Linked DNA regions of Homo sapiens. The protein of the gene in region 1 interacts with the protein of each later gene in a biochemical or structural test. Each region holds a gene or a part of one and is shown in the gene's direction. Other genes may lie near its edges. The genes, in order: SNTA1, HTR2C and MAPK12.

Evidence for each region.
Region 2: the proteins of SNTA1 (region 1) and HTR2C interact in a test that uses a peptide from one of them, tested with the Homo sapiens proteins (2 studies listed by BioGRID and IntAct).
Region 3: of the proteins of SNTA1 (region 1) and MAPK12, one has a biochemical effect on the other in vitro, tested with the Homo sapiens proteins (2 studies listed by BioGRID and IntAct, with this or other methods).

Annotation. Positions count from the first base shown.
Region 1 is NC_000020.11:33,442,089-33,445,835, reverse strand, and holds the start of SNTA1 (alpha-1-syntrophin), read left to right. Parts: upstream 1-2,072; 5' UTR 2,073-2,215; coding exon 2,216-2,525; intron 2,526-3,747. UniProt on the Homo sapiens protein: Adapter protein that binds to and probably organizes the subcellular localization of a variety of membrane proteins. May link various receptors to the actin cytoskeleton and the extracellular matrix via the dystrophin glycoprotein complex.
Region 2 is NC_000023.11:114,587,006-114,590,752, forward strand, and holds part of HTR2C (5-hydroxytryptamine receptor 2C isoform a precursor), read left to right. Parts: intron 1-2,584; exon of another isoform or gene 2,585-2,980; intron 2,981-3,747. UniProt on the Homo sapiens protein: G-protein coupled receptor for 5-hydroxytryptamine (serotonin).
Region 3 is NC_000022.11:50,260,323-50,264,069, reverse strand, and holds the start of MAPK12 (mitogen-activated protein kinase 12), read left to right. Parts: upstream 1-2,386; 5' UTR 2,387-2,560; coding exon 2,561-2,685; intron 2,686-2,773; coding exon 2,774-2,903; intron 2,904-3,747. UniProt on the Homo sapiens protein: Serine/threonine kinase which acts as an essential component of the MAP kinase signal transduction pathway.

The DNA of each region.
Region 1 (3,747 bases):
TTGGTTTTTTTTTTTTTTTTTTTTGAGACGGAGTCTCACCCTATCACCCAGGCTGGAGTGCAGTGGTGCAATCTCTGCTTGCTGCAATCTCCGCCTCCCGGGTTCAAGTGATTCTCCTGCCTCAGCCTCCTGAGTAGCTGGGATTATAGGTGTCTGCCACCACGCCCGGCTAATTTTTTTATATTTTTAGTAGAGATGGGGTTTCACCATGTTGGCCAGGCTGAGTCTCAAACTCCTGACCTCGTGATCTACCTGCCTCGGCCTCCTAAAGTGCTGGGATTACAGGCATGAGCCACCATACCTGGCCCCCTCTTTTTTTTCTTGATGGTATCTTATGTGGAGGATTTTACCCAAAAGTTCAGGGAGGCTAAACACTGGTGTAGTCCTACTTATTTATTGCTCAACATATCCCAGCTAGGAATGGAGGATAGAGACAAGGAGCAGGTATGAAGGCCAGTTGAGCTGTGTGATGTGGTGGATTTTTCAGATTACAATCATGCTTTACCTCTGTATTTGTCAGCTGTCTAGCAGAGTGGTTCAGTGCCCAGGCACTGGTGTCAAACAGGCCTGGGTTTGAATCGCAGCTCTTCCTCACTCATAAATGTGTGACCTAGGCCAATTAGACTAAATCCAAGTTTTCCCTTCTGTATAATAGGGGTGCTCTTTTTTCTTGCTCTGTCACCAAGGCTGGAGTGTGATGGTGCAATCACAGCTCACTGCAGCCTGGACCTCCAAGGCTCAAGCGATCCTGCCACCTCAGCTGTGATTACAGGTGTGAGCCACTGTGCCCAGCTGGGGGTGCTCTTAGCTACTCCAGGAGGCTAATGTAAAGATAACACTTGGAAAATATTCTGCCAGCCCTAGGTAAGAGTAAGCATTCACTAAATGAAAGTGATTATTTCTATAGAATAGGGAGTCACAGTTTACCACGTGTTTTCACATTGATTTAATCCTCACACCAGCCCAGTGAAGTAGGTATTATTATGATCCACATTTTACAGATGAGGAAATTGAGGCCTAGAGCAGTGACGTGAGGGGACCAAAGTCGACTTGGAGCTAACAGAGGCAGCAAAGATTAGAAACCATGTCTCCAGTCGCCCAGACCCAGAGCCCCACCTTGCAACCCTCTTCCCACACACCAGTTCTGTTTTTTTTCTGCCAGGCCTCAAAGTGTGGGACTTCAGGCTTTTCTATACTCGACTGTGAACACAGCCAGGGGTTAATCTCTTAAACTTCCCTCCAGTTTTGAAGTGGGGATCCTGCCCACACCTCCCCCAAGCCCTAAGCGGTGTCGGTAGCGGTCTCCTCCAGGGGGCGGGGCCTGTCATCTTTAGAAGCCACGCCAGCGATAAGCCACGCCCACAGACCAAAGCCTCGACCCCCACCCCCCATCCCCCGCCCTCCCCGATAGGAAACCAACTTCTTCCTCAGCTCCCCAACTAGCAACTGTGCCCGCAAGGTCTCTCGCGGCTCAGCATCTACCTTTTTTTTTTTTTTTTTTTTTTGACACAGGGTTTCGCTCTGTCACCCAGGCTGGAGTGCAGTGGCGCGATCGCGGCTTACTGCAGCCTCGAGCTTCTGGGCTGTCATCTAGGCCTCCCAAAGTGTTGGGATTACAGGCGTGAGCCTCCACGCCCAGACGGTGTCTACCTCTTAAACTCAAGCCTTGGAGTCCAACGCTCTACCATACGCAGCCCAGCCCTCCGCCATATGCAGCCCAGCCCGATGCCCAGTGCTTCGCACCAGGATACGTGGTTCTGTCTCTTTTTCATGCGCTCCCACGTCCGGGAGTTACAGTCCCGGCCCTCGATGGGCATTCCGAGCGCCGAGCCCCCTGCGCGGGCTCACTGGGTTCCGCCCCCGACGCGAAGCCCCGCCCCCTGACGCCCCGCCCAGCACCACGCCTCCCGGGCTTTCGCCTTACTTAGTGGCCCGCCCCGCCGCCCTTCTGACCCACCCCGCTAGGTAGTCCCACACGGCGGCCCTCGGCTCCCGGGCCCCGCCCCGGCCTCCTGCATTTGCCCGAGGCCCCCTCCCCAGCACTGGCCACACCCCAGGGTAGCCCCGCCCCCAGAGCTCCTCCCCCAGCGGCCGGGGTAGGGTGGCGGCTGGCCCAGCCGGGCCCCCGCTGCCCTCTGCCCTGGGCGCTTGGTCGGAGCGGGCTGGGCAAAGCGGGACAGGGCGAGCGCGGCGGCCCGGGGGCTCGGAGGCGAAGATGGCGTCCGGCAGGCGCGCCCCGCGCACCGGGCTGCTGGAGCTGCGCGCCGGGGCGGGCTCGGGGGCCGGCGGCGAGCGATGGCAGCGGGTGCTGCTGAGTCTGGCGGAGGACGTGCTGACCGTGAGCCCCGCCGACGGCGACCCTGGTCCCGAGCCCGGCGCTCCGCGGGAGCAGGAGCCCGCGCAGCTCAACGGCGCCGCGGAGCCGGGCGCCGGGCCCCCGCAGCTGCCAGAGGCGCTACTGCTCCAGCGGCGCCGCGTGACGGTGCGCAAGGCCGACGCCGGTGGGCTGGGCATCAGCATCAAAGGTGGGCGCGGGACACCGAGGGCGCGGGGTCGTGGTGTCTGGGGGCAGCCGAGGGCGCAGGGGGCTGGCAGCGCGCCCAGGACATGGAGCTGGAGGCTTCCTGTCTGGGGGTAAGGGGGGTCTGAGGAAACAGGTAACGGAGGGCACTGGGCACACCAAGGTTGGAGGGGGTTTCAGTAGTTGGTGGCCTTAGGGGGCACGGAAGACACAGGTGTGGATAAGATTGTGGGAGCACCAAGGACACGTGGGTGGGAGTTCTGTGTGGAGGCGGGGGGGTCTGAGGGGTAACCAGCATGAACATCAAGGACAAGAGGGGTCCCCCGGAAAGCAGAGTGTGGAGAAAGGGGGTTGAGGCCGGGACACCAGTGGGACAGGGAGGAGGGAGTCCCTGAGAAGCAACCAAGGTGGGTGCAGAGGGGAAGCCTGGAGTCTGGGAAGCACAGGGGTGGATAGGAGGCCTGGGTGCAGGCACAGGCTGGGGTCACAGGCAGAAGGCCAGCAAGGACCTAGGAATCTAAGGACCCAGGAAGGCTGCAGGGAGCCCTGACAGCTGGATTTGGGTCTCCTGATCTGACTATCTCCACCTTGCACAGGATAGAGCTTTCAGCCCCCAGGACTGACCGCTAGTGGGGTGCAGTTAGGGTGCAACCAGACTGTGTTTGAATCCAGGATCAGCTGTGTGAGGTTGCAAAAGTCCCGTCCCGCCTCTGAATCTGTTTCCTCAACTGTATAAGAGGATGACAGAGTTGTGATGTTTCTGAGAGCAGGGCTCACCACACCAGCACACTGTAGGTGCCTAGTTAATTACTGCTGTTAGCGGAGAGGAAAAATGGAGGCCAGCAGATACTCCCAAAGCAACTAAACATAGTTGTTAAAATCCTTGCACACCCCCAGCTGCTGGGTTCACTATTCCTGCCCATCTGTTTCTCAGGGTCCCAGCCCCCAGCAGGTGCTTTGGGAAAGGGTATCAGCCTTTGTCTCCACCTTGAATACATACCGTACCCTCTGGGGTCTCCCTGGTACTGGTTCTGTTGACTAGTGCCTCCAGACCGTTTGGCTTGGCTGAGGCGGTGGGGATGGTGGTGAATGCCACCACTGTGTGCCAGGTGCTGTGCCCAGGACACTAGTCTCATGATCCACTTCATCCTGGCAACAAGTGGTGAAAGGTAGGGAGTATAATTCCCATATTGCAGGTGAAGAAACTGAGACTCAGAAAGTTAAAA
Region 2 (3,747 bases), on another chromosome or scaffold:
AGCCTAACATTCTAATAGATTCATCCAACATTATAATTGAGTCAAGCCTCAATAATTTTACTGTTCCATGTATTTCCTTCAAGGAAACGTCATCCCTCTCCAGCTAAGGGAAACACAAAAATTAAAACAAAATTTGGGGGAGAGATTATAGTAACCAACATTAAATATCCTCAGCTATTCTTATTAAATTGTTCAAGGCCTGAGATTGAAGGAGGTTGCAGTTTGCTGAGCCTGCTGAAAGATAAATTAATTCCCAGGTTTTAATGGCTCCTGAAGCTCCAGACTATTTGTCCAGTATTATTAAGGAGCATCTTACCACCTCACTTTCATAGCAATGGAATACCTCACAAAAGGATGATGTACGTGTACTGAGATTATTTTAGTAAAGCATCTGATACAGCTTAGTATTGTCTAGTGGAAGAACTGCTAAATTATGTTCCTCTAGCTGCCTGGTAGCCATGAGCAAACTAGGAAAACTTCATCATAAATTGAAGTTAATAATATATTATTGTGATATTTTATGTCAGTATCATATATAACCCCACCTGATTGTTGTGAAACAGATGGGTATTAAGCACTTTGAAAATTTTAAATTATTGCACTAAGCAACATTTATTATTTATTTGTTAGCATTCTAGGCTACCTATGTCATTTCATCTACATATTGTACTGTTGAACCTCAAAAAGAAATCATCAATCTCCAGTCTAATGTGTGCTCAAGTTATGGATCTCTCCAACACTGCCATTCTTCAAGACATTTTAAGAAGGCTTTTTCATATACTGAGAACATTGCTGCAAGACAGTCTAGTCATCTCCATTCTAGACAAACAACATTGAAAACAACCAAGTGGTTAAGCTGCATCATCATTTGGCAAGTCATTAGCAGATTTAATACTAATGCTCACCTGCAACAACTCTTTGCTAATCACTTCTGACATTTTAATGCACAAACGACATAGTGAAATCAGGATTTCAAATAAGATATACACAAGATGGAATTTTAATTCTGTTTTTGTCTCCTACCTGGCATCTCTACTTCAACCTCGCTATTCATTCCTCTTCTCAGCTGTGGCTAAGACAGTGTCATCTGCAGTTTCCTAAAATAGTTGCGTATTATAGCATTGTACATATAGCTGGCATTTGAAACAGTCATTCTTCTTAATTATGGTTAACCTTATGCATAGATGACCACTTACATGGTCTAATTTGAGAAGCACTCGAAAGGCCTTCTGGTCCCTAAATTAGTAGCCTTCATGGTTTTCCATATAACTTGAAATTCTACATTCAGGAATTTCCCTCTTTCATCTTAGTCACTGTCTCCTTTAAATACAAGTACACCTTTGGGTAACATACTGTTATTATTACCTATTAAGAACTATGCATAAATTTATTGAAAGCTATTAGAAAGCCTTTAGAACTGCATTGTCCAGTGCAACAGCCACCATATATGGGTATTTAAATTCAGAGTTGAATTAGCGTTAATGGCAAGGTGTGGGGTTGAGCTCAATGTAAAAATAAAAAGTGAAAACTGAACACCACTGAAACCAAAGATAATGTCAACTAATATCTAGACAAGGATAGCAATGAATGAATTGGCTAGGATTTCCTTTACTTTTTCATAAAACATGATGTCTTCTTTAAACTAATCAGTAAACGCTTACGAATAAATGTCAGTGTTCAAATCTTTTGCAAGTGTATTTTAAACTTACGTATCTCCCATTTTATCTCAGTAATCAAGACTCACTGAATACTCTTCAATTATAGCTTCCTGTAATCAAAGTAGTAAGACTTGCCCAAATTAGCAAGTAATTATTCTTAAGAGGAGAGGTATAAAAGATGGTAACAGTGGCCACTATTTATTGACATTTACCATGCACTACACAGTTCTAAGAGGTTTACAGGTATATAACCATACAAGCCTGATGACTACCCCATGAGAAGGTACTACTATTATCCAGTTTGCAGTTAGGGAAACTGAGGCATACAAAGAGGTTAATCTGTTCAAACTGAATGAACAAAACCAAGCTTGAAACCAGGCAGTTTTATTCCAGAGGCCGTGGTGTTAAACAACAAACTATTGCCTCTGTTTAGAAATTGGCTAATTTTTCTTTCATACTGTAACAACTAGTCTTTTAACAGAACAAATTTGCATGTAAATGTGAGGATATTAATGGACAATGTCCATTAATCCTCGATATGCTGCTTGGCAAGGCAATGAGACAGACATGCAACATTTCATCTAGAGATTCACCTACCAATAAAGAAGTAGAGCAAATGAGAATGTACTGTTAATGCTGAGAGACTGAGGGACAAGAAGCTGAGTGAAGCTCAGGGGAGTTACAGAGATAATACAAAGACAGAAATGAAGTCAGGGAAATAATGCTATTGTATGTAGAGATGACTGGACAGGCAGATGTTACTACTGTGAGTTGGACCCACAGGTTTCTACTACATGTAACACCACAACAAAGGCCATTCATATTTGTCATTTATATAATATTGCCTACTTGAAATTCAAGCAGTAAAATAGAAGCTCTGAAGGTCTAAGACCGACTGACAGAAGGATCAGTAAAAATCGTTTATCTCTTTCCGTACCGATAGTGCTCCCGAAAACATGGTGAATGTTCCTAAAACTCACAAGACTTAAAGAAGTGTGGCTAGCACCAACCCCACAAAACGACACAGTACAAGAAGGGCAAAGATTCTCTGTATGCCCAGGGAAAGCAGCATTATGACAGGCAGCGCAGTGAATATGGTGGGCAGACTAAGCCAATTTTTCGGAAAAAAGCTAAAACTACAAAGAATATTGTGCTAAGGCTTGAGTGCACTGATCCCAACTGCAAATCTAAGAGAATGCTGCCATTAAAAGATGCAAGCATTTTGAACTGGGAAGAGATAAGAAGAGAAAGGTCCAAGTGATCCATTTCTAAGTGTCATCTTTTGTTTTATTATGAAGACAATAAAATCTTGAGTTTGTGTTAAAAATTATTTATCATATATCAGGAAGGTTTCAAGTCTTGTCTGATCCCATTTGCCATGTATTTCCTTTTCATACTAGAGTCAGGAAAAGTAATTTGATAGCTATGACTTGGAAAATAGGTGCTATAAAAAGTAACTGCCAGTTTTTTAGTTTACTGATCTGAGCCCAGGTAGAAAAACCATATCTGAGTACAATACTTAGACTAAAGTTATTTCAGGGTAGAAAGACCATACTTGGAAAAATTCTAAATATGATTAAAGTCTTTTTAAAAGTAGGTTTTTAAAAATTCAAAAACCAAACCAATTACTTCCATTTCTTACTTCCATTTTAAATTGACAAAAAACCTGATCCGTGATTAAAAAAGAATTTATTGCTAGAAAGATTGGAGAAGTCCAGTACTGTGGTATGTAGCTTTCTCTCCCAAATGTATCTATATTCTGTCTGATCTTCAAGGTCCGTTTCAAGCCCCACCTCTTGCAGGAAGCTTTTGTTGACTAGCCCACATATATGATAAGTGCCTTGCCCATAGTAGGTAATCAGTTAACATATCTTGATTGATTGTATTGTATTCCAATGGTTAAAGTAAAGGTGAAAGAAGATGAAGGAAGAGCTAAAATAGAATTTTTAGCACATCTGCACAATAATATTCAAGAATTCAAGGCATCTAACAGAATAACAGTTTCCCCTGAAATGATTTCAGGTAATTTCTCTGAACATATTTTAGGGCAATAAAAATATTATAAATCTTCTTAAATTAGTTTAGCTAA
Region 3 (3,747 bases), on another chromosome or scaffold:
GCTGGGGGTGGGTGGGTGGGTGGTTTGGCCTTGAGGACGCTAGGGCAGGCAGCACACCTGGATGTGGACTTGGACTCGGACACTTCTGCCCTGCACCCTGGCCCGCTCTCTACCTCTGCCCACCGTTGTGGCCCTGCAGCCGGAGATCTGAGGTGCTCTGGTCTGTGGGTCAGTCCTCTTTCCTTGTCCCAGGATGGAGCTGATCCAGTAACCTCGGAGACGGGACCCTGCCCAGAGCTGAGTTGGGGGTGTGGCTCTGCCCTGGAAAGGGGGTGACCTCTTGCCTCGAGGGGCCCAGGGAAGCCTGGGTGTCAAGTGCCTGCACCAGGGGTGCACAATAAAGGGGGTTCTCTCTCACTTGGCTTGTATCCAAAGGCTACTCCAGGCCCGGGTGCCCCCACCATCCCTGCTGCTGGGCGTGGGGGGAGTGTCTGGGTCATCCTGCATCACTCACCTCCAGCTGGCCAGATCCCTCAGGCCCCCAGTCAGACCAGCGGCCATCTTCTGGCACCCTCCCTGCTCCCTGGAGGGTCTGAGAGCCCAGGGGGACCAGGGGAAGACATGGCTGATGGGCAGACTTTGAGGGCACAGGGTGTGACAGCCACCCAGATGGTGACCCCAGCTGCCCTGTGGGGATGTACTGGGCAGGCTTGGCTTTGGGCCAAGATCCAGACACCACCCCCGCCTACCCCTCAGTGTTCAGGGAAGCTGGCTGGGGAGAAGTTGGGTGTCTCAAGGAGCAAGGGTCTGCCCATCCCTGGGTGGGGGCTGGGCAGGGTAGGGAAAATAGCTTTCCTTTCCCTCCTGGTGAAGGAAAAAGAGGCCACTTTAACCCAGGGAATGTGCACGCTGGTCCCGTTCCCACTACGCGCTGCAGCTTATGTGTGGGGGAGGGTCCAGGCCATTTGGGGTCAGGCAGTGTCTCTAAGGACCAGGGACAGTCTGTGCCCTTGCTTGGGTCTTGGGTAGGGGTGGAAACCGTCTGGGAGTTGGGGGCCTCCTGGGGCCTGGTCAGTGTAGTGGTCAATCCCGGGGGAAGTCCAGTGTTGGCGGTTGGGGGTGGGAGGAGAATGGTGACACAGCCCCACCTCAGAAGCCTGGTCCGTGCAGGGCCTGCTGGACCCCTGAGCCCCACCACGGGGAGTAAGGGGGACAGCGTGGAAGCTGGGCTTCCTGGAAGAGGTGGATGGAGTGCCACAGGCAGCCCAGGGCACAAAGGGTATGGGCCACAGGCAGCTGTGGTTTGGGTGGCCCTGGGCTGCCCCGCTCACTGGTCACGAGCTGGTGAATGCCGTGGAGCACGGCCCAAGCCCAGGTGTAAAGCTACTACCACCCTTGAGCGGCTGAGCTGCTGATTCATGGCAGGAGGGCGGGGCAGAAGGCCCTAGGGATCCTGTTACCCACCAGCCCAGTGGGCTCCTGGGGTGCCCCAACATCCCTTCTGAGATCCAGGTTCCTGGGCTGGTGAAGGGGTGTCAGGGTGGGGCTTTGCCCTCAGGAGCATCTGGTCCAGGATGGGGCCAGACCTATGGGAGGACAATGCCCACACAGAGGGGTCAGGCGGAGGGCCCCAGCAGGTCCCCATCCCTGCTGGAGAGAGTGCAGCCACTCTCAGCCTGGGTTTTGCAGGACAGGACAGGCAGGGGTGGGATGGGCAGAGACACCAGTACTTGCAATGCTTGGAGCAGGCACCCCACAGATGGGGGGAGCAGGGGGAGGAGCTGGGGGTCCAAAAGGGCCCACGGGGACCTATGGGACTGAGAGGCCCGGGGTCAGTGGCCACAGGAGTGGGGTTGGGGATGCAGCCTGAGGAGTTTGGGGGACAGACCCCTCCGTGTAGAAAGAGGGATACAGGCAGGACAGGTGCAGATGGACCCCTTGTTGGGGGACGGATGGATCAGGCTCAGTGGTAGGGCATCCTTGGGGGTGGCCTGCGAAGTTGACCCCGGGAACACAGGGCTCAGCCCGACTTGCGGCTGCCATAGAAGTCAGCGCTCAGGCTGTCAAGGATGGGCCCTGCGCCCTGGAGCCGTGGGGAGTTAGGACTGGAGCGGGCGGGGGGGGGGGGGGGGGGCTCCTGCTGAGACCCCCCCAGGGCGGGGAAGTTCAGCCAAAGGGGAGAGGCTGGCAGAGGTATCTCCGCGCCGCGTCCGGCCCTTTATGGGGACGAAGCTGCGGGGCGGCGCTCCCCTCCCCCTGCGCTTCCCCCCAGGCTCCGGCCCTCCCCAGGCTCCGGCCCTCCCCCGGCGGCGGCCGCCTCGGGTTTCCGGAGGGGCCGGAGGGCGGGCGAGGGCGTCACGTGCGCGCCGCCCGCGGGCCGGTTGGTCCCCGGGCGGGGGAGGGGCCGTGCGCAGCCTGGGTCGGGGTCGGGCCGGGGTCGGCACCTGGGACATCCCTGAGGGAAGGGCCGGGAGCGGGAGCGCCCCAGCGGCCGGCGGGCGGGCGGGCGAGCGGACGAGCGGCGCGGAGCCGGCCCGAGGCGCGCGCCGAGGGAGCCCCGTCCCCGGTCGTGGGGGCACCGCCCGCAGGCTCTGCGGGGTGGGCAGCTCCCGGGCCTGCCATGAGCTCTCCGCCGCCCGCCCGCAGTGGCTTTTACCGCCAGGAGGTGACCAAGACGGCCTGGGAGGTGCGCGCCGTGTACCGGGACCTGCAGCCCGTGGGCTCGGGCGCCTACGGCGCGGTGTGGTGAGCGCGGGCCGGGCGGGGCGGCCGGCGGGGCGGGCGGGGCCTGCGCGGGGTGCCCGGCCTTCCCGCTAAGCGGTCCGCCCCGCAGCTCGGCCGTGGACGGCCGCACCGGCGCTAAGGTGGCCATCAAGAAGCTGTATCGGCCTTTCCAGTCCGAGCTGTTCGCCAAGCGCGCCTACCGCGAGCTGCGCCTGCTCAAGCACATGCGCCACGAGAACGTGAGTCGCGCGGCCCCGCTCCGGGAAGGCGCCGCGGCCTCGGCTTGGTTCAGCTGGGCTGGGTTCCCCCACCCGGCAACCCCTCCTCCAGGCAGCCTGCTGTGGGGCCGGGCGGGGGTCGGGCCGTGGGTCCCCAGGGGAGAAGGAGAGCAAGGCCTGTCTCTCCTTGGGAGACGACTCCCCCAAGGGCCGTTCCCCATCCTCCGCCAGCCCCGGGAAGGACTCAGCCCCTTGACTCGGCGCCTCAGCCAGGCCCTGGTCAGGGAACACGACTTGGCCAGGCCCAGGGGATCCTCCAGGTCTCACGCCAAGCCTTGCCCCCAGCCAGGAAGCCCGCGGTGAGAGCATGCTCCCGGCGGGAGGATTTTCCTGGAAGGGGCACCTTCCCTCTTCCCCATCCCCTTTCCAGCCCCTCTGTGGAGCCCACTCTGCTGCTGTCCATCTCCCGAGTCTTCCGACCCGGTGGTGGAGGGGGAGGAGGGGGGCGCCAGAACGCAGGGAGTGTGTTGAACCCTCAGGAGCCCCTGGGGGTGAAGGGTTTAGGGAGCTGCTGTTTGAGGAGCACTGGGCGTGGTGGCCGCCTCACAGACACCCTCCTGTGCGTTGTGGGGGCCCATCCTTTCCAGTCCTTCCAGTGAGATGCCACGTACAGCTGCCCTGGGCCTCTCCCATGGCGGTGGCTGGCTGCTAAGAACCCGATCTCTCTGCCAGGGGTGCTCTGGTTTCTGGATACAGTCCCACTTGTCCACTGCCCCCCACGTCACTCCTGCCCTCCCCCTGGTCTGGGCCCAGCCTGAGGGCTGGTGGTCTGGGCACCCGGACCCTACCTACAGGGTGAGATGCT